Homo sapiens: one gene and its partners. The protein of the gene in region 2 interacts with the protein of the main gene of each other region in a pairwise test. Each region holds a gene or a part of one and is shown on either strand. Other genes may lie near its edges.

The links. Proteins that work in one complex are often made in the same cells at the same time.
Region 1: the proteins of SPRED2 (region 2) and ZDHHC17 interact in binary tests that used the Homo sapiens proteins (3 or more experiments, as listed by UniProt).
Region 3: the proteins of SPRED2 (region 2) and CHAT interact in binary tests that used the Homo sapiens proteins (3 or more experiments, as listed by UniProt).

What each region holds. Positions count from the first base shown.
Region 1 is NC_000012.12:76,767,095-76,774,121, reverse strand, and holds part of ZDHHC17 (palmitoyltransferase ZDHHC17), read right to left. Parts: intron 1-7,027. UniProt on the Homo sapiens protein: Palmitoyltransferase that catalyzes the addition of palmitate onto various protein substrates and is involved in a variety of cellular processes.
Region 2 is NC_000002.12:65,422,581-65,429,607, forward strand, and holds part of SPRED2 (sprouty-related, EVH1 domain-containing protein 2), read right to left. Parts: intron 1-7,027. UniProt on the Homo sapiens protein: Negatively regulates Ras signaling pathways and downstream activation of MAP kinases. Recruits and translocates NF1 to the cell membrane, thereby enabling NF1-dependent hydrolysis of active GTP-bound Ras to inactive GDP-bound Ras.
Region 3 is NC_000010.11:49,617,017-49,624,043, reverse strand, and holds part of CHAT (choline O-acetyltransferase), read right to left. Parts: intron 4,320-7,027; coding exon 4,128-4,319; intron 3,550-4,127; coding exon 3,431-3,549; intron 1,948-3,430; coding exon 1,894-1,947; intron 1-1,893. UniProt on the Homo sapiens protein: Catalyzes the reversible synthesis of acetylcholine (ACh) from acetyl CoA and choline at cholinergic synapses.

The sequences.
Region 1 (7,027 bases), on a different chromosome or scaffold from region 2:
TGCATCACCACACCCAGCTAATTCTTTTATTTTTTTGTAGAGACAGGGATCCCACTGCTTCCCAGGCTGGTCTGGAATTGCTAGGCTCAAGCGATCCTCCCACCTCAGCCTCCCAAAGTGCTGGGATTTACAGGCACAAGCCACCGCACTCAGCCAGAAGTATATTTTACCTTATTAATGTATACTAAGCAAAAGAATAGACTGAATAAAAGAAAATTTCAAAGAGAAGGACTTTTATGGAAATGTAGTTTTATTATTTCAAGTAAAAAGGTTACTAAAAGAAGTGGCCTTAGAGCAACTGCTAAAAATGAATCCTCCCCTAGTTCCTTTAGTAACAAGGAAGAACTGATAGTTAACTCTAATAAAGTTTTTCTACTATATTGTAAAAAATAAGTAAAAAATAAATTGTATTTTGACCTATTCATGTATACAGCAAAGTACATATAAGGATTATGGGCTTGGGAGTCAGAGTTTAGGTTCTAATATAAACTATGCCAACTTTCTAATGATGTGAACCTGAGTAAACTACTTCACCTCTCTTGAATCTGTTTCCTAATCTGTAAACAGCTCAACATATACACTTTGCAGAACTACTGTGAAAAGTAAATGAACAAAACTTGGAAGCAATAAGACGTCCTTCAGTGGGTGAATGGATTTGATACACCCAGAAAATAAAATATTATTCAGCACTAAAAAGAAACGAGCTATGAAGCCATGAAAAGACATGGAGGAACTTTAAATGAATATTACTAAGTCAAAGAAGCCAATCCAAAAGGCAACATACTGCATGATTCCAACTATAAGATACTCTGGAAAAAACAAAACTAAAGAGACAGTAAAAAAAATCAGGGATTGGTGGGAAGGACATATGAACAGGCAGAACAAAGATTTTTAAGGCCATGGAACTATTCTACATGACAACATAATGGCGGACACACATTACTCTTACAAGTGTTAAGAACCTCGCCGGGTGCAGTGGCTGACACCTGTAAGCCCAGTACTTTGAGACGTCGAGGCAGACAGATCACCTGAGGTCAGGAGTTCAAGACCAGCCTGGCCAACATGGTGAAATCCCGTCTCTACTAAAAATACAAAAAATGAGCAGGGCGTGGTGGCACGTGCTTGTAGAGGTACTCGGGAGGGAGGCTGAGGCAGGAGAATTGCTTGAACCCAGGAGGCGAAGTTGCAGTGAGCCAAGAATCACGCCATTGCACTCCAGCCTGGGCAACAAGAGCAAAACTCCATCCCTCTCCCAAAGAAACAAAAACAAGCGTTAAGGCCGGGCGCGGTGGCTCACGCCTGTAATCCCAGCACTTTGGGAGGCCGAGGCGGGTGGATCACGAGGTCAGGAGATTGAGACCATCCTGGGTAACATAGTGAAACCCTGTCTCTACTAAAAAAAAAAAAAAAAATACAAAAGTTAGCTGGGCATGGTGGCACGTGCTTGTAATCCCAGCTACTCAGGAGGCTGAGGCAGAAGAACTGCTTGAACCTGGGAGGCAGAGGTTGTAGTGAGCTGAGATTGTATCACTGCACTCCAGCCTGGCGACAAAGCTAGACTCCGTCTCAAAAAAAAAAAAAAAAAACAAGTGTTAAGAACCATAGAATACACAACACGAAGAGTGAGCCCTAATGTAAACTATGGCCTTTGGGTGATAATGATGCATCAATGTAGGTTCATCTACCATAACAAGTGTACCACGCTAGTGTAGAATGTCCATACTGAGGGAGGTTATGCATGTGTACAGGCAGGGAGCATATGGGAACTCTTCGTACTTTCTGCTCAATTTTGCTACCAATATAAAACTGCTCTTAAAAAATTAAGTCTGTTCAAAAAATTCAAAAACAAAACACAAATGAGACCATTTGTAACCACAGCTAGCTAGTGCCTAGCAAATCCAACTCTATCATCTCTATCATACTGTATTGTGCTATAAAAACAGGCAACCTGGATTACTACTTAACCTCTCTATACCTCTGTTTCCTCATTTGTAAAATAGGTATAAAAAGCTGTGAGGATTAAATGAATGAATATACATGCAAAATTGTTTAGGATAGTGCCTAGCTCATACTTATAATTTGCTGGCATCTATGTCCCGGCTACATGGAAGAAAGAAGCTGGTCTGCATTTGGAGAAAATGAAGCTGAAAGGGAGAGAGGAGGAGAGATAAGAGAGTTTTGGTGGCATTCTCAGCTCAGGTTCCAGTTGTGTTTGATTTCAACTGCATCCTTGCATCCTGAGTTTAGGTTATCTGAGACAGTAAATTCCCCTTTTTGCCCAACTATGTTTCAGACAAGATTGTTGACATCTGCAACAAGAGGATCCTTACACAACAAGAAACTTCTGTCTTCAACTCAAAGAACTTTTTTTTTTTTCATGAGAATAGGGATAGTTTTGGTAACCACCAGTTTTGTTCATACCTCATTAAATCCTTCAAAAATTAATGAGTATTCATAATTGAAAAATTATTCTTAAAAACTAAACAAGGGTAGGGTATACTAACATCTCAATCAGAAGTAATTTTTCACTTCATTTTTTTCTAGAATACAACAACTGATAAAAATGCAAGCCATCTGACATATATACACAAAAAATGTCTCAGGTACTGTTAATGTTATAATCTTCATATCCCTAACAGTATCACCGATAATCAGAAAGATGATCCTAGGACACTATAATGTTCTAATTTATCAAAGAAAGATTCTATTATGTTTAGTATGTATTAACCCTAGAAAATAATTTGGCAAATTTGCAACAGGAATTGAAACAAAAACAAAAAAGTATTGTTTAATTCTCTGTAACTCAGGATACTAAGTTCACAGTATCTCATTCACAGAAGGCTGAAGTTTCACTGTACTTTCAAATTAGCTGCCTGTGGCTCCACTTTAAGAAAATTTTAAAAGAAGATATTTTATCCTAGGTCTAAATAATTATTCCACTGGGTCAAATTTTATGTATTTTATAAATATAATATTGTCTTGAATCATTATTTTTCAAATTCCAAAATTAAAATATTTGATTTTACTCTTAAATTATCCATCTGTAATAAAATCTATTCATAAAATAATACTATAATCAGATAATGCGCTGAAAGAGAATTTTACATAACCTTAATAGTGAAACATCTTTTCGGATTATGTAATTGTTGTGGGTTCTGTTAAAAGCAAACTGCATTTTTTTTTTTTTTTTTTTTTGAGATGGAGTTTTGCTCATTGCCCAGGCAGGATGGCACGATCTTAGCTCACAACCTCTGCCTCCCAGGTTCAAGCGATTCTCCTGCCTCAGCCTCCCGAGTAGCTGGGATTACAGGCATGCACCCCCATGCCCGGCTAATTTTTTATTTTTAGTAGAGACGGGGTTTCTCCATGTTGGTCAGGCTGGTCTCGAACTCCCGACCTCAGGAGATCTGCCAGCCTCAGCCTCCCAAAGTGCCGCAATTACAGGCGTAAGCCACCAAGCCCGGCCAGCACACTGCATTTTAAGACACCTTAACTGTTCAATGCTGACTACCTTAACATACCCTTACAACCCTCTCTAGGAGGAAAGGAGGACCACGAATCATTTCTAATTTTAAAAAATACACACAGACACACTCTCCCTCATCTATCCTGAGGTATCTGAAGGTCTACAGTTAATCTTACATCATTTTACAATGTGTTATTTTGTAAATGTTATTACTTCGGAGCCTAGCAAAGGGTCAAGACCATACTTGGATTCTCAATAAACACTCCCTTGTAGCAAAGCACACGTCTTTAAAAACATCAAATAGGGCAAAAGGGCTTATAATAAGAAGTCCTCTGCCCATCTTCTCTTCAATCCCCAGAGACAACCAATACTAATTATTTTAGCCACTCTAATATATGCATACTACAATTGTTTATCAATTTGAGGTACTACTTTTTACCACAATATTAATAGCCAACACTTATTGTTGTTTACTAAGTGCCAGACACAGAACTTCACATGTATTATCTCACTTAATCCTCACAACAGCCTCATAAAGTAGGTGTTATTATACCCCCATTTTAGTTTGGAAAATTGGGATGCAGAGTTCAATAACGTGCCCAGGATTGCAAGCTAGTGAGCAGAATTGAGATTTGAATCCTAACACCATTGCTCACTTTTAACCTATATACTCTTATATCCACCAACTCCACAGTCCACTCTTAATAAATACTTTTGAGATCCTCCCAAATTAAATAAAAATAATGAACAAAATAAAACAAGCCGAATCAGGAAAATGACATTTCTCAAAACCAGAACAATTTTTTGGTCAGTAATTTTCAACTCTGGCTTTGAGCACAATCCATGAAGTCTCACCAATTAATCACATTTTAATTTTATATCTATTGACTCAGTGATTACTAAGCTTAATAGTAATGCTCAGTGGTTACTGGGCTTAACAGTGGTCACTATACTAAGCATAGTAGTTACTAAGCTTAATATATAGTATTTTAAAATATACATTATTTTAAAATCTAGATTATTATTATATGACCTATAACATTTTTGCTGAATTTTTTAAAAGGCATCAAATCCTAGTGACTGCATAAAGAAGTGCTTTGAAGGAAAAGAGTTGCAGGTAACCTATGGGAAGAAAAACAACTTTCAAAGTCATTTTGTATCTGCTTTCTGAAAGCAAATGAATTACCTTATATGTGTACAAATACATATATATACACACACACATATAATATATACATAATAGGGCAAAAAGTAATAGAAAATGGCAAAATTCTTTTCACTAAAGAACAGCTTCATGGCCGAGCATGGTGGCTCATGCCTGTAACCCCAGCAGTTTGGGAGGCCGAGGCGGGTGGATCACCTGAGGTCAGGCGTTCCAGACCAGCCTGGCCAACATGGTGAAACCCCATCTCTACTAGAAATACAAAAAATTAGCCACGTGTGGTGGCAGGCACCTGTAATCCCAGCTACTCGGGAGGCTGATGCAGGAGAATCGCTTGAACGCAGGAGGCTGAGGTTGCAGTAAGCCGAGATCACGTCATTGCACTTCAGCCTGGGCAACAAGAGCGCAACTCCATCTCAAACTAAAGCAAAAAACCAAAAGCTTCAAAAAGTAGATTTTATGAAATCTGTGAGGACAGTAGATAATAGCAATAGTTTGATTTAATATTCAAACAGAAATCATCAGAAATAATAAAATGAATGTGAAATAAAAAACGTTACCATAAAAAGAGAGACGAAAATGAGAAAAAAAGGCAATAGCAGAAGTTTTGAAATAGAGAAAAAAGGAAGAAAGAAAGAGATGAAAGCCCTAGATAATCTAGGCAATCCAGTTCAAAGCTCTGAGTCAGATGGTTCTGAAATAGCCCCTGTGATACTGTGGCAGAAGGGGATATTGTGATCTCATTCTATCAAAGAGCTGAGATGACTTACTGAGGATGTACTAGTAGGTAAAATGGAAGCTGGTCATGGCTAGTCTGCTGGACCAGTAGACCAACATATGGTCTCTGTCCCTCTACGGAAGCCTTTCTTCTAACCACTCTAAATGACAGGAATCTGACACCACTTACAAGCTACATTACTTAATTCAGTACTTATTTGAATCGTCCAGTGTTTCACGTGCCTACAACTTCCCAACTAGTTATTTACCTTCTGGAAAACATATGCTATCTTTTTTATGTTATTTTAACCCATATAACCTAACACAATGCTACGTACCTAGTAGACAGATGCTCAAGTTGATTATATTGAAAAATCACAATTTAAAACCAGAACACTTGAGTCTGAAGAAATCTTAGAGGTCATCTAGTCTAGCTACTTTATCTTAAAAGCAACAAAACTGAGACCAGTTAAATACCTACTAGCTCAAGGTCACTGAGCTAGAACTAGTACCCTAATCCCTTGATCATCAGTTCTTCTTTATCCAAAGAGCCTTTAATTTCTTTCATTTCAATAAAACAAATAATCACCTATTTCAAAAGAAAACAAAGTAACAGCAGCTTCCCTTTCAGTATTCACTATATGCCAGGGCCTTCAGAAGGTACAATTTGCTTGGCAGCCTATGTGCCTAGGTCTATGAAAACTGCTTTATAAACATTAGCCTAGTTAATATTCACAATAACTGTAAAAGGTGTCACTATTAACCCAACTTTACAAATGAGAAAAATGTACTTTGACCATGATAACAGTAAGCTGCAGAAGCTACATTTTCAGTTTGTCACCACAGCTTTGGATTTTTTTTTTTTTTAAGAGAGTTTTGCTCTTGTTGCCCAGGCTGGAGTGCAATCTCGGCTCACTGCAACCTCCACCTCCCGGGTTCAAGCAATTCTCCTGCCTCAGCCTCCTGAGGAGCTGGGATTATAGGCATGTGCCACCACGCATGGCTAATTTTGTATTTTTAATAGAGACAAGGTTTCTCCATGTTGGTCAGGTTGGTCTTGAACTCCGAACCTCAGGTGATCCGCCCGCCTCGGCCTCCCTAAACCCTGGGATTACAGGCGTGAGCCACCACGCCCAGCCAACTTTGGCTCTTAACCAGTATTCTACACTGCCTCTCACTGAACACCAAAAATATCCTGAAGTCTCACACAGACTCCAGCACAATTCCTTACCCAAACATGACAAACAAATGTTTAAATGACCAACTAAATGAGTGGATGATTTAATTCATTAAAAAGTAAGATTATCTTACCTAAAATACCTCTAAAAAGGCGTTTATCTAATTGTATAATCCTCTAAGAAAGGTTTTAACAGTGGGCAGTTTGCATACTAATAAGAGATTTAAGCAATGCTCATTTCTTTACCCACAAATAATTCATCTGCTTAACAAATACTAAAGTGAAAAACTGTTTTTGTGTGAGAGTATTAAATTGGAAGATAAAAAGTGAAATGAAATTTGTTCCTGCAAGATCCTATTCCACTAAATTAAAACCCACATAAGTTTTAAATCAGTCACCAAAACCAAAATAAATGTGTAACACTTCCCTTTCTTCTGGTAGAGAAAAAAGAAGTAACATTAACTGAGCACCTACAATGTGCCAGTTCTTGACCCTCAACATATAG
Region 2 (7,027 bases):
ATCCAATACAATAATTTACACATAATTTTGCAACTGGGGCCTAAGTACATTCTAAATTCAAGTTATTCCGATTCACAGTATATCACACTCCAAATCAACACCTATAATCTAGTATCCCCAATTTTCCTTAGTACAAAAGACATCTTAGAATGGACGGTAAGGTCTTCAAAGGTTTTTTGTTGTTGTTTTTTATTTTAACAAACAGCAGAGTACTGTTCTGAAGTGTGCTCACACACAGATCAATGAGAAGGCAACCAATTATTAGGCCTTCAGGGCCAGAGGTGAGCTGTTGAGCCCAGGCACATCATTCTAGCAAGGCAGATTTGCTTTGCGAGTCTGAGCCTGAGAAAAAAATCAAACTTGACTTAACCTTTAAGCAAAAGGGAGAAATGTAATAACTATATTAAGACTATAGTCACACTTACGCTGCTTTAAAAGATCTATAAAAATGAGTAAAATTACTGGGATGTTGATAAATTAAACCTCTAGTCTAGCACTATGTCTGTATTCCCACTCCATCGTCCACTTTATTCCTTGGCTGGAAAAATAAAATGAAATGCCAAACATGGCATTCAAGTAGACAAAACATGTCATAAGCCAAGTGACTCCTAAGAGGATGGTCAGTCCCACCCATCCACACCAAGCCTACTGACTTTTGTTTTAGAGAGAATTTGAATGCTGCTGGTAATAAGGTATCTAGACCACATATCAGGAATGGCGTAGGGATGGCAGGGGAGCCAAGGATGCTATTACAGGTAGGTACTCTTACCCTAAGAGAACAGACAAGCTATAAAACTCAGAATCTCAAAAAGCACAGCCAACTGGGATCACTGAGTAAAGGGGCCAATGGTCAGCTGGGCATTATTGATTATCACAGTACAAAAACTACCAGGACACCATTAGAAAGCCAAAAGAAACAGTCAGTCTTAGAACATGACTTCTAAATCCTAATTATCCTCCCACAAGCTCCCTGAGGAGCCTTGAGCAAGTCATTTCAGCTCTCTAAGGTACAAAGTGAAAATCTTGTTTCCTGCCTTGTAAAGTTCATGGATCTCCTCTGCCTTGTAAATTCTGAAAAGAAAGAACACCTTATTACATGATGGGGGACAGACCTGGGGTAGATGGATGCTACTGAATCTCAATTTCTCAGGTGCTGTGCTAAAATGTTTTACCAAGGCTACCTCATTTATGCTTTTTTTTTTTTTTCTTTGAGATGGAGTTCTGCTCTTGTTGACCAGGCTGGAGTGCAATGGTGCAATCTCTGCTTAGCACGATCTCTGCTTGGCATAACCTCCGCCTCCCAGGTTCAAGCGATTCTCCTGCCCCAGCCTCCCGAGTAGCTGGGATTACAGGCATGTGCTAGCATGCTCAACTAATTTTGTATATTTAGTAGAGATGGGGTTTCTCCATCTTGGTTGGGCTGGTCTCGAACTCCTGACCTCAGGTGGTCGGCCCACCTCGGACTCCCAAAGTGATGGGATTACAGGCATGAACCACCATGCCTGGTCCATTTCTACTTTTTAACAGCCTATTAGGTATACAGCAGAATGAACCTCATTTACATTAATCCAGGGCTGGTGGCTTGGGATACTTAGCAGGGTCCCTTAGTGGCAGGGGAAGAGGTACGGTCTCACTCCAAAGTCCATGATTCTTCCACTACCATCATGGCAGCCTCTCCTTTAGTAGTTTTGAAAAAGCAACTCAAAGTCTTTTTTGGATATAGGTATCCAAAAAAGATAATTGTTAAATTGTGAAAAATTGTTAAATTTTTATACACGGTACAATTATTTTTTCAATTAATGAATAGTTACTTCAACCAATTGATAACTGTTTACAGAAAGCCTACTATGTGCTCAGTGTTCTGCCAGGCCATGGGTATGAGGGTTAATAAATTATTCTCAAAGGGCATGGTGGTGTACACCTGTGGTCGCAGCTACTTGGGAGGCTGAGATGGGAGCACTGCTTGAGCCCAGGAGTTCAAGGCTCCAGTAAGCCATGATTGCACCCCTGCACTCCAGCCTGGGCAACAGAGCAAGACCCCATCTCTAAAAAAAAAGTAATAAAAATAAAAGATAAAGCTATTCCCATGCCAGGTGCAGGTGGCTCATGCCTATAATCCCAGCACTCTGGAAGGTCGAGACAGGAGGACTGCTTAAGGCTAGGAGCTGAAGGCCATCCTGGGCAACGTTAAGAAGACCTCACCTCTACTAAAAATTTAAAAATTAGCCAGGTGTGGTGGCGCACACCTACAATCCCAGCTACTCAGGAGGCCAAGGCAGAAGGATCACTTGGAATACTCCAGCCTGGACAACAGATCAAGAGTCTGTTTCAAAAACAAACAAACAAACAAACAAACCTATTCCCACACCTAGAAAGACAGATGGGCCAAGCTTCTCTGTGCATTCTCAGTTAGTATGGATGCAAATACAAAATAAACAGTGCGTATCTGAAAAGTCAGTACTGGAGGCCAGAGCCAAAGCAAAGCAGTAAGAAAAAGAAACAAGAGGAATAAATAATGAAAATGAAAAGACAAAGATGTCATTACCAGATGAACAAATGAAAGTCAATTAAAAACTTAACTGATAATTAAGTTTTAAGCATTTATAAATGGACCACAGGAAATATATCAAAGAATAAAAACAACCAGATCTGAAAAATCGTTATTTCAGGACACAGAGGAGCCAAAACCATACATTTTAGAAGCTCCCAATATTTGTTCTAATCTCTTCAATCACAAGTGTTAAATGCTAAGGGTGAAGTCAAAATCTGTTTCTTTACCTTTACCCTCTAAGTGCAAGTAAACACAGAAAGTTTGTTTTTAAATAAATATTCAACTACCCTTTGAGAGTAGCAGGAAGAACATAAGCACAATTTGATAATACGTGTGCAATATGCCACATGTGAACATAATGTTGATAAAGGTTACATGAGAAAGGGAAATGGGTAGTTATGAAACAATTGTTACTTAATTTAGCAAACTCCCATGATCCTGGCCTGACTTTCTTTCCATGACATGGGACATATGTCAAGATGTAACAATCCTTCATGTCTATCCAGGGAAAGCATATAAAAAATATATTTTGTTCCACGGGGCACTGGAGCATCAATACAAAATATTTCTTCTACTTCAAAGTCACTAAGAGCCCTAGAAAATGCCTTAAAAGCACCATCACAATGTTCTAGATTTAAATAGTAATTTTTAAATATTTCTAAGAATAAGTTATCAAGTTTATTGAGATGACGGGGTCTTTTTAAAAAACTCGGCCTAATTTACCTTAGTAAAAACAAGCCCAAACAAATAATCACATACACCAAAACTTTCTGGTCTGCCTCTATTATCACTTGTTCAATTTCTGAAAATTTTGCTGTTAGACTGTATTTGTGTTCAGCCGGCAATACAAGAATGATGCCAATATTGGAGTTCATCAGCACAGCTGTATCCACCCTCAAGTGTTAAGACTCCAGCAGAACCCTGCAGCTATTGAAAATTGTTAATACTGTGATTTCTGCAGAGATTCTCCTACAGAGGCATAGAAACAGGCCCTGTCTTATTGTGGTCAAGATTTTTTACTTGTCAGTTCTCGCAACAATGAATGGAATAAAAATGGGTTTTGAGTTACCAATGACAGATCACTACCACCAGATAGTTCTGCATGGAATTTCCACAAAATACCAGAGGCTCAATGTGAACATGGTTGAGTTTCTCAGGAGGCTTATATATATATATACCCTAAGTTAACCAAATACAACAATTGTAATTATTGCATTAGTCAGTAGGGATGAAACAGCACTTTAAAATAATTAAATCCATTATTTTATTCAATAGACATTAAGCAACCACAATGTGCCCAATGGTGTTGGGCCAACAACTAGAAAACTAGGCATTTGAGAAGTAACCTTGAATCCAAAAAACTCAAATTCGGATGCAGAATCTAGCTGGGTATAAGCCCAACTTGAAATAATAATTGCCATGTAATGTAGGGAAAAAAATAATACACACAGACATTGATTTTGACTTGCATTTTGACTTTGACTTGATTTTGACTGGGAGGAGGGGGTTATGGTGGGAAAGTCAAAAAGGACCACCCAAACGCAATGGCTCAGAGATGGCTGGGGGCATGAGCAGAATGTCACCTACTGGAGAAGTGAAGGAAGAAAGAAGAGAATTTCAGAATAAAAGCAAGAGTAAGCAAATTGCTAAGGCAAAACAGTTTTGGGTATTGCTACTGATCCACTTTGTATATATTGTACTGGATAAAAGGACAGGAAAGCAGAGGGGACCAGCTTTAGTTAGAAAGGAGGTTGCATTTGCTAATATTCCCATGGAAACAAACCCAGACCACAACCAGCTGATGGAGCTTAGTCCACTCCAGGTCTACCACCTCACTAGCTGTTCAGCCTTGCACTAGGCACTTAAGTTTATACTATGACAGGTCCTAGCTTACAAGCTCCTTAAGGTCTTTTCAGGTTTTTTTTGTTTTTTCTTACTTTTAAGATTTTTTTTTCCTGGAGACAGGGTGTCACTCTGTCGCCCAGGCTAGAGTGCAGTGGTACGATCACAGCTCATTGCAGCCTCGACCTCCTGGCCTGAAGCCATCCTCTCCCCTCAGCCTCCTGAGTAGCTGGGACTACAGGTGTGCGCTACCACACGCGGCTAATTTTTATTTTTTATTTTTTTGGTAGAGACAGGGTCTCACTGTGTTGCCCAGGCTGGTTTTCCTGGCCTCAAGCTATCATCCTCCAGGCCTGGGTCTCCAGTAGTGTGGGGATTTTCTGAGGAATAAATCAAGATTCTAATTCTGCACAGTCAACTCCATATTTTTAACATTTAAGGGTTCTACTCATGTATAGTAGAACCATACCCCCTGGTAGAAACATACCTCCCTTTTTAAGGCAAACACAAAGAAAATGGATCAATACTCACTGTATCGGTTTAATTTCCACAACTGTTATTTCAGTTAACATAGATCTAACATTCCAATAATAACCAACTCTGAATTTGCACTACTCCCATTATCTTTGAGGTGTATCACAGAATTCTCAAGCCCAAATTTATTTAAATCCATTTTAATTCAGTATGCCCCTCATGCTTCACAGCATTTTCTGGGAAGATAAGTGAAGTGAGAAAAATGATGGCAATGACAGATTGTCACCAGTTCAGAAGAATAATGAACAAGCATGATTGGCAGAAAGGCTGCGAGCTCTGAGTCAGAACGACTGAGGCTGGACCACCCCAATGGTTCATAGTGGTTAGTTAAGAGCACAGAGACCTTCCTGAACCAGGCTACTGGAGTGCTCCATTCCCAGCTCCTTCAGTTACTCACAGGATGACCTTGAGGAAAGGACTTCACCTCTCTGTGCCTCACTTCTCCCTATTATAATAGGGATAATAATACCAACTACCTCGCAGGATTTTTAAGAAGACTAAATGAATAAAGTGCTTTAAAAAAATGTTTGCTGTCTCGGGCAACTAACTTGACCTTGGCTTTCTCATCAGTTAAATGGGGGTAATACCTTCTTCACAGGGTTATCTGAAAATGAAGCTCAGCCTGAAAGAAATCTATCTCAGTGCCCTGCAAAGAGCCACATAGGGCACCTGTTTTATGCCTAGCCCTGTACTATAAGCTTTACGTAGGCTGTCTCATTTAATTCTCACAGCAGCTCCACAAAATAGGTAGTGTCTATTCCCATTTTGTCCACTCCATATAAAACTGACATGACATATGAAAGTAAACTGCCTTAGATCATAAAGTGAGCAAATGGCTAAGCCTTAAGCCTTAAATACACGTTACAAACGCATTTAACTCGGGGTCTTCGATTGGTCTCTGGCTGAATAACCAGTTATAAAAGACATTTTTGCAGACAATTCAGGCAGAGTGTTAAAGACACCAGGGAATTATTAATTTTGTAAAATGTGATAATAGTATTGTGGTTTCACAGAACAGTATTTTTATCTCTTGAGAAGTAAGCTCAAATATTTAGGTACAACAGTCCCAATGTCTGCAATGTCTTTGAAATGGTTCAGCAAAAATACTTACACCTGTTTTATTAATGGGAAACATTTCAACGTTAGGGAAAATATGACTGAAAGGGAAGCTGCAAATCCATTCCCAGCAAGAAGTGGGTTACAGAGAAGAGTTCATGAAAGGAACAAAAGAAAAAGCTGAATGGCAGCTCGATGTCTCCAGGGTTAGAGCTTGGTTCAGTAAGGTTTATCTTGTCTGCAAATTTCCAAACCATTCATAGCCATGATCAAACGCTTTAAAGATAGTGACAAAATAGGTATGGATTTAAAAAAATTTTCCAACCCTATGCACAGAGGACGACTTACAATAGTTTGCTGATGCTCTTCGCTTCTTAAATTATATTTTTAAAAGTCTGTATAATTGTAAATTTTAACATGCATTTTTATGTGGAGGGGGGACGAAAGAGAATGGTCAGTGTATTTTCTATATGGAAGATATCTTTTGGGACCATTATCAACAAGAGCAAAGAAACTTTCCTGAATTACCATATATTAGAAGAATTTTAAATTGACATGGAAAACAACATTAGAAAACAAAACATTATTTTTTTAAATTAAGCACAATTTTACCATTTGCAAGATTCTGATTTACTGCATTCTGATGCTAAATGAAACAGATATTATCTGGACCATTCAACAAAACCTTTACTACATGTAGACTATCAAGTCTATTTTACCTAAAGTACAAATATATCTTTCCTAGGTCTCCAGTTTGATGCCACCAGTTCTCTTAAGTAGCAAACCCTGCCTGGTTCCAAAGGTATCTGAGAGACCTCAAACATAAAATCATTACAAGAAAAAAACAGATCAAATTCACCCAAAGTAGGAATCTAGCAAAAATCTAACCAAATATGGCTACCTTAATCAAACAATAATTTTAGCTCTAGACTTAAAGACAGTGGCAGCAAACAACAATAAAACAACAAAAAAGCAATCACAGCAAGCTCTGTAATTCAGAGAGAAAAACCTTACTGTCACTAACATTTAAAAGGAATTTTTCAG
Region 3 (7,027 bases), on a different chromosome or scaffold from region 2:
AAAGCCCTTGGGAGGCTTTAGCACGCAGGGGCATGACTGGGTTTCCATTTTGTTGTTTTACTGACCCTGCTTATATGGGGAGAATGGACTGAAAGGTGTCACAGGAAGAACAAGGAAGGAGGTTGTGGCAGAGAAGGAACGTGATGTCTTGTGAGGGCAGCAGGGAAGGAGGAGGGAGCTTGGGGACACAGTGGGGAGGGAGAATGACCACATCTGAGCACCATGGGTTACATGAAGGTGCAAGGGAGAAAGCAGAACAAGCACAGGTGACTTCTAGGTTCCCAGACTCACCAACAGGGCATGTGCTGGTGCACTTACGGACATGGCTCGACAAGGTATGGGAGGAGTTGGGGAATGGGGAGGGAGAGGCGAAGCTCTCCTGGCTCATTTGTAATGACTGAGAGACACCCCGGTGGGGATGGCTGAGGCTTGGATGAGCGAGTGTGGGACTCAGGGGAAGGGACACAGCTGTATTTTGTGTCTGTTTAAGTGACTGTCTTGCCCAATAGTCTAAGGACATTTTGAGGGGAGGATGAGGCCTTATTTCTCTTCCTCTTCCCAGCATAACTACATTGCAAAGTGAATAAGTAAATTAATTAATTAATTAATTAAAGGTTCAAAACAGGCACTCAGGAAAATGTTCCAGTCTTAAGTCCTTTTCAATCATTGGACATGGGAACCTCCACGTGGATATGCATGGGTATTCGTGTCTGTGTGAGTGTGCACACACATGTGAAAGTCTGGGATCAGAAGGAAAGTGGTCTCGTGGGGGCAGTCAGTGATGAATGGGCACCAAGTCCCCAGGCCCAGCAAGACAATGGTGTTTGAAAACAGACAGGACGGTGAGCTGGAGGGGCGAGTTCTGGGAGGAAATAGAATGCTGTCCACGAAGAAGGGAGAGACCAAAGACACACCATGAGGAGACAACAGCCCAGGGCCTAGTGACCCATGGCATTTAGAGAGGAGTGAGCAGAGCACACAGGAGCGTGTGGTGCAGAATGCCCTGGACAGCCTGAACTGCTCCACCCTGACAGTCTGGGAGCTCTGCCTGCCCCTCTCCAGAGGGAACAGCCCTACCCTGGAAGGGGCTGTGGGTCTGAGCCTCTGTCCCAAGGCTGGGTAAAGACTGAATTGAGTCAAGTTGAACAAAGAGTGAAGTTTGCCCCTTGCCCCCTCCTTGCTCTGCCACCACCTGGCTGTGTAACCATGGATGAGTTACTTAACCTCTCTGAGCTGCAGCTTCCTCATCTGTGCAAGGGATGCTTCTTTGGGCCTCTCTCTCTCCTTCCAGCTTCTAATGCCCTTATAGTCTCTACCTTGAGAGACTTGGGTCCTCCAGACCCGCTTACTCTCCCTGCTGCTCTCAGACACCCTCCTGCTCTCCTAAGCTTGGCCAGGAGAGGGACTTTCTTCCTAAAATCAAAGAGAGCCTGCGGTGCTTGAGCAGCCCTCTCCATCTGTCAGAACAGCCTCATGTCCACTGAGCTTGGTGGGATTGAGGATACAGTCTCCCGCTGGAGACACCATTCCTCCAAGTGGCAAAGCAGAACTCCCATCACCTTACTCTAACAACTCTTCCTTCCCCGCCTTCCTATGTGTTCTCCAGCTTCAAGTGAATTCACTCCACCTGTGCACGTATGTGTGGAGGGAGGAGACATTTTTAAAAGATCAAGGAAGGATGGTGCTTGCCACAGGAAAAGGAACAGTTAACAGACAGGCCAGCCAGGCTAAAGGTCATCCTGATGGTGGGGGAGTGGGTTGGGGCAGGGACATCTGCTCTGTGCCAGGAGCCAGGAATGGGAATACAGAGCTGGAAAAAGACAAGGTCCCTGCAAGGGAGATAGACGCATAGGCAGACTGTGCTGGAACAGGGCACCACCCTCCCAGTCCTACCTGTCCAGCAGGGCCTTGTAGCTGAGTACACCAGAGATGAGGCTGGCTGCAAACCTGCAGGGAGAAGGGAGGCCTGAGCCCTTCCTCCCAGGGCCTGGCTTCCTCCCTCCCTCCCTCCCTTCTGCCTCCCCTCCCTCCTTCCCTCTTCCTTCCATCTCCTTCCTCTTCCCTCCCTTCTCCCTCCCTCCTCCCTCCCTCATCCCCACTGCCAAACTCTGTGATCGCCCATTGTATGCCGCCCCCGTGTGCACTAATCAGATGTGGTTCCTGCACTAATCAGATGTGGTTCTTGCCCCCCAGCCCCATGCCGAGAGCCCACCACAAGCCTTGGATTCAAAATGGTCCTTTGGTGAGAACTGGGGGTCGAGTAGCTCTTGGGGAAGGGAGAGGAAACTGGAATCATCTTGAAGAGGAGAGGGAGCAGAGAGGGAGACGGAAGCTAGGAGAGGCCACAGAGCAGGCCAGAAGGGGTGGAGGGTGAAGGGTGGAGTTCTTCCTTGGAAAAGCCAGCCCTGGGTCTGGACAGGGCAGGACCCCTGGCCTTGTGGAAAATTTTCTCCTGGGAAAAGCCAGTAATTTGGTCCCTTTCCTCCCACCCCCCGGTACTAATGAAAAGGAAATCGAGTGCTTGGGGAAAGGCACTGGAGAAACGAGCAGCGGGAACTGTCATACCAGGATTCTGGGCCTGGCTTAATTGCACCAGGAGGAAAATACCCCCTCAGATGCAATTGTGAGAACTGTTTTCAGAAGTCATTCATCTGTCCACACCTTCCTTCTTCCCTGGGGAGACCCCAGCTACAGTGGGAGGGAAGGCTGGCCAGCTGGTAGGGTGGGGTGGGGAGGTCTTCCTAGCATGGCTAAGCCCTGCCCAGAGGAGAGGTGGGCCCTGCCTCTTGTCCTCGGGCCACTTTGGTCTGCCCTCCCTCTAAACCGTCCCCACCATTTGCCCCACTCAGGTCTTAAGACCAGACTCTGAGTGACTCCAGAAGGGAAACCCTTTCTCCCTGCACCCATCCTCCATTGTCATTAGCGGCCAGAGGCCCTTCCAACGGCTCAGTGAGCTCTGAAATTACAGCAGATGGCACAGGCTCTGGCTGCTGGCAGGGAGGAATTGTTTCCAGCCTTCTGGGGCCTCTGTTTAGAGCTGGGGGCTCTGGAAGGAAGCAGAGGCCCTCTCAGACAGCCTGGGGCAGTGTTTCCCAGGGACAAGTACTGGCGTGGTCCAGGGACACACGCCTCCTCCCAGGGCCTCAGCCAGGTGGAGGCTGTGGGGATATTTGGACCCATGACCTCCATGAGTGTCCATTCCACTGCAAGATAAATATAGACTAAGGCTAATTGTGTGATTGTCACTCGAGTGCAGCCACACCTAACCTTGCTCCCCACCTGATGGCCTGGACGTCCACTGTCTCGGGGCATTTGACCCCAGGAAGCTCAGCCGAGGCTCCAGCTTTGGCCTTTCTTTGCTGGCACTGGGGTAAGGGCCCCTGCCTTGGGTGGGTCCCCAGGTTATGAGCTAGGAGCACCAAGGCCTCACCTCAGCTGGTCATCGGTGCCAGGGAAGTGCTGCCGAGCAAAGATCACGGCAGGGCTGGAGTTGACAGGCAGGGCCAGGCGGTTGTTGAGATACATGTCATTCAGCCAGTACTCAGACACCTGCCGGGGAGGGCAGGGAAGGCCGTCACATCCCCCCAAACAGTCCCATCCTGACAGCCCCGAGAGAAAATCGGGACACTTCACCAGAGCATTAATTCATTCATTCCACAAATATATGCTAAGCCCCAGGTATGTGCCAGGAGCTTCCCAGTCCACCAGGCCTGTCCTTCACCTTTGTGCCCTCCTGTCTCCTTTCTTCTGTCCCAGTCCCCATCCTGGTGGCTTGGTGCTACATCGCTGTCCTCTGCCTGTCCTTACAGGTGTCTTCTTCCTGCCTTTCACCCTCTCTTCTTTCCTAATGCGATCTCTGTCCTCATCTGTCCCAATTCCTGTCCCCGATTTGTCCGCCTCTTTCTCTATCCGTATTTCCCATTCCTCATCTTGTTTGTTTCTCATCCTTGTCCCTTCCTGTCCTCCAATCCATGCCACCTGCCTGTTCCCACACCTATCCCCCATCCCTGTCCCTCATCTCTCCTTCTGCCCTGTCTTTGTCCCCTACCTGCCTCTCACCGAGATCCCTCTGTCTCCAGGTCTGCCTCCCGCCCCTCTTCTATGGGTTCCTTGTCTGCCCCTCTTACCCAGTTGGCTGTCTTCTCCTGCCGCTCCAGGAGTTTCTGCTGCAGGGTCTCGCCGAGGCCACCAGGGGCCCCAAACTGCTGCACAATGGCCTGGCTCTTCCTGAACTGCTCCTCAGACACCAAGTGTCGCATGCACTGCAGGTACGTGGCCAGGGTCTGCTGCAGCGGGGGCACGGGCAGTTTGGGCAGCCCCTGGAAGAAAGGGTTCATAGGCATTGTGCCTCTAGTATGTGCGCCCCATGCCTGTCCCCAAGTTGGTCCCTAGTATCTGTATTGTTCTGCCCCTGTGTTGTTCTCTACCCTGGGACCCCTCCATTTCTAGGGCTCAGCTCAGCAAAATTATGAATTTAGGAAGTTCCTGTTTGGCGTCCCTGACCTCATTGTGCTCTGTCCCCAGAAAGGGATAAAGTGCAGAGGAAAATACGGTGATATTGGCATCAGACAGACCTGGGTTTCTACCCTGACCCTGCCACTGACCAGCTCTGCAAACTTGGGCAAATCAGCCTCCCTCTGTGCCTCAGTTTCTTCCTCTGTAGAATGGGAGTAGTAACCCCTATCTCTCATAGGATCAAACAGAAAATAGATATGAAAGTGCTTTTAAGCCATAAAGGATGGATCTAAGATGAAATAGTCCTGTTATTGATATTGTTGGCTGCTGGTGACTCTTAATTTAGAGATTGTTCCCAGCTGGGGCTCCAGAATCTGATTGATCTCTGGACCTGAAGGGGGCACTCTTAGGGAGAGATTTGGAAGGATAAAAGATGGTTTTGGATGAGAGACATAATTCAGTGCTGCCCTAATGACTAGAATTCTAAAAGAGGGTTCCTCAGAAGATGATTCATGCCCTGAGCTTCTTATAAGTCCCTCCTACTTATAAAACCCAGGCAGGGAATTTTGTTTCATGTGGGTGTTAGGGGCAGGGGTGGGGATGCAGTGGATGTCCTTCCTCTCCGAATCTCTCCAAGCCTCTGCTCCTCATCCATAGGACATAAATAACAATTCCTACCTGAGAGGAACACAGAGAGAATTAAATGGGGGAACAACTGGCCTCAAATAGGCACATCTAAAATGTTATGACCTCGCTATCTTATACTTCCAGAGGAATTCCCAAGAGGAAACCCATATTCTTTGGGGGCCCCAAAGTGTGGCTAGAGTCTAGGAAGAACCCCCAACTCCACCCTTCTATACGCATGCTGTGCCTCTCAGTTCACCAGCAGCGTTCACCACAGAAGGCTTCTGTGTGGCTTCAATTTTGTGACTTCCCATTTATGAATGAGGAAACTGAGTCCCAGAGAGTGGAGCAGCTGGTCCAAGGTCACATACAAATCTGATGGCAGACTAGGAGCTAAAATCAGTCTTCCATGTCCACTCTGCTTCTTTCTCCTGGGTCGTTCTCTCCCTTCCCTTTCACTCCCTTTTCCATTCGTTTCCTCTTCTTGTCCCTCACTTGGCCAGTGACAATAGGAAGGCAGAACTTATAATAATATTGCTTAAATTGTACAGTTTCTTCTCCTGTAAAATGGGGGTAGCAAACCCTGCCTTTCATAGGATTAAAGAGCTAATGTACGTGAAAGTGCTTTTAAGCCATAAAGGATAGATCTAAGATGAAATAGTCCTGTTATTGATATTGTTGTCTCCTGGTCAGTCTTAATTTATAAACTGTTCTCAGCTGGGGCTCCAGAATCTAGCTGATCTCCGGACCTGAAGGGTGTACTCTTGTGGAGAGATTTGGAAGGATAAAAGATGGCTTTGGATAAGAGACATAATTCATTGCTGCCCTAATGACCAGAATTCTGCAATATGGTTCCTGGGACACACTGGTAGACAGTGAGGCACCTTCCTTCAGGGGCTTCTTTGTGCAGTGATGAGTTTCCATGAGACAGTAAAGGGTTCCTCCCCATAGGCTGCAGAGTGAATGGGCCCCTTAAAAGCACCTCCTTCTCTGCCCCTGCTGCTGATGGATGAATGACGGCCCTCTGCCTGTCTGATCCTGCCTCTAGGGTTCACTTCTCTGGCAACAGTGGGGTGTCAGTGCCAACTACGGGCTGCTCCTGCCCTGGGGAATGATGCGAGGATGGATCTGGACAGCATCCCAGACTGCCCTGCCCAACCCCAGTGAGCCAGGTCTGGGCCCCCAACCCAGCTGATCTTGTTCTTCCATCTCTTGCGGTGGGGGGGGTGGTCTGTGTGATGGGTGGGTGAGCACCTACAGAAAGCCCAGCCCAGTTAGTGACCTGGCCAAAAGGGCCCACAAGTCTGGCTAGATCCTCTGCCAGACACTGCTCCCCTTCTTCCAGGCTCTGACAGTGCGCTGTGACTTAGCCTGGCTAACAGGGAATCAGCAGTGGGTAAAAAGGAATAAAGCAGGAAATCGCAGCTCAGACATCTCAACCCCCCAGGGATCCTCCCCAGACTCTCCTGGACTTCTGGCCCTGTGCTAAGGAGTGTCTTTGGACCTGGGAGTCTCAGATCAATGCTCCAAAACTCCATGTTTCCTGGGCAGTTCATGTGAGTCAGATCCTGGGCTGGACTCAGAGACGATGGAGAAACAGAGCCTGCTCTGAAGGAAGCCACAGCCCAATGGGGTGGGTAGAGAAGCATGCCAGTGGACCAGAGGTGACAATAGATGTTTGTCAGCTGCAGAATTCAGGGCAATGGAGTGAACAGCTTCTTGGGGAGAAGCCAGAAAATTCTGCTCAGGGTTTCAAATGAGGGCTGGGGGAAAGGGGAAGGGGGAAGGGGGAAGAGGAGTGGCAAAAAGACAAGTGTGGGAGAGGGGAAACACATGCAACCACCTGAAGTCAGGTGTGTTGCTCTGCCACCCGAAGGCTGGCTGGGGCGGGAGGGAGGATGCCTGCCCAGGGAGGATGGCATTGTCTCAGGCCAGTGGAGAACATGGT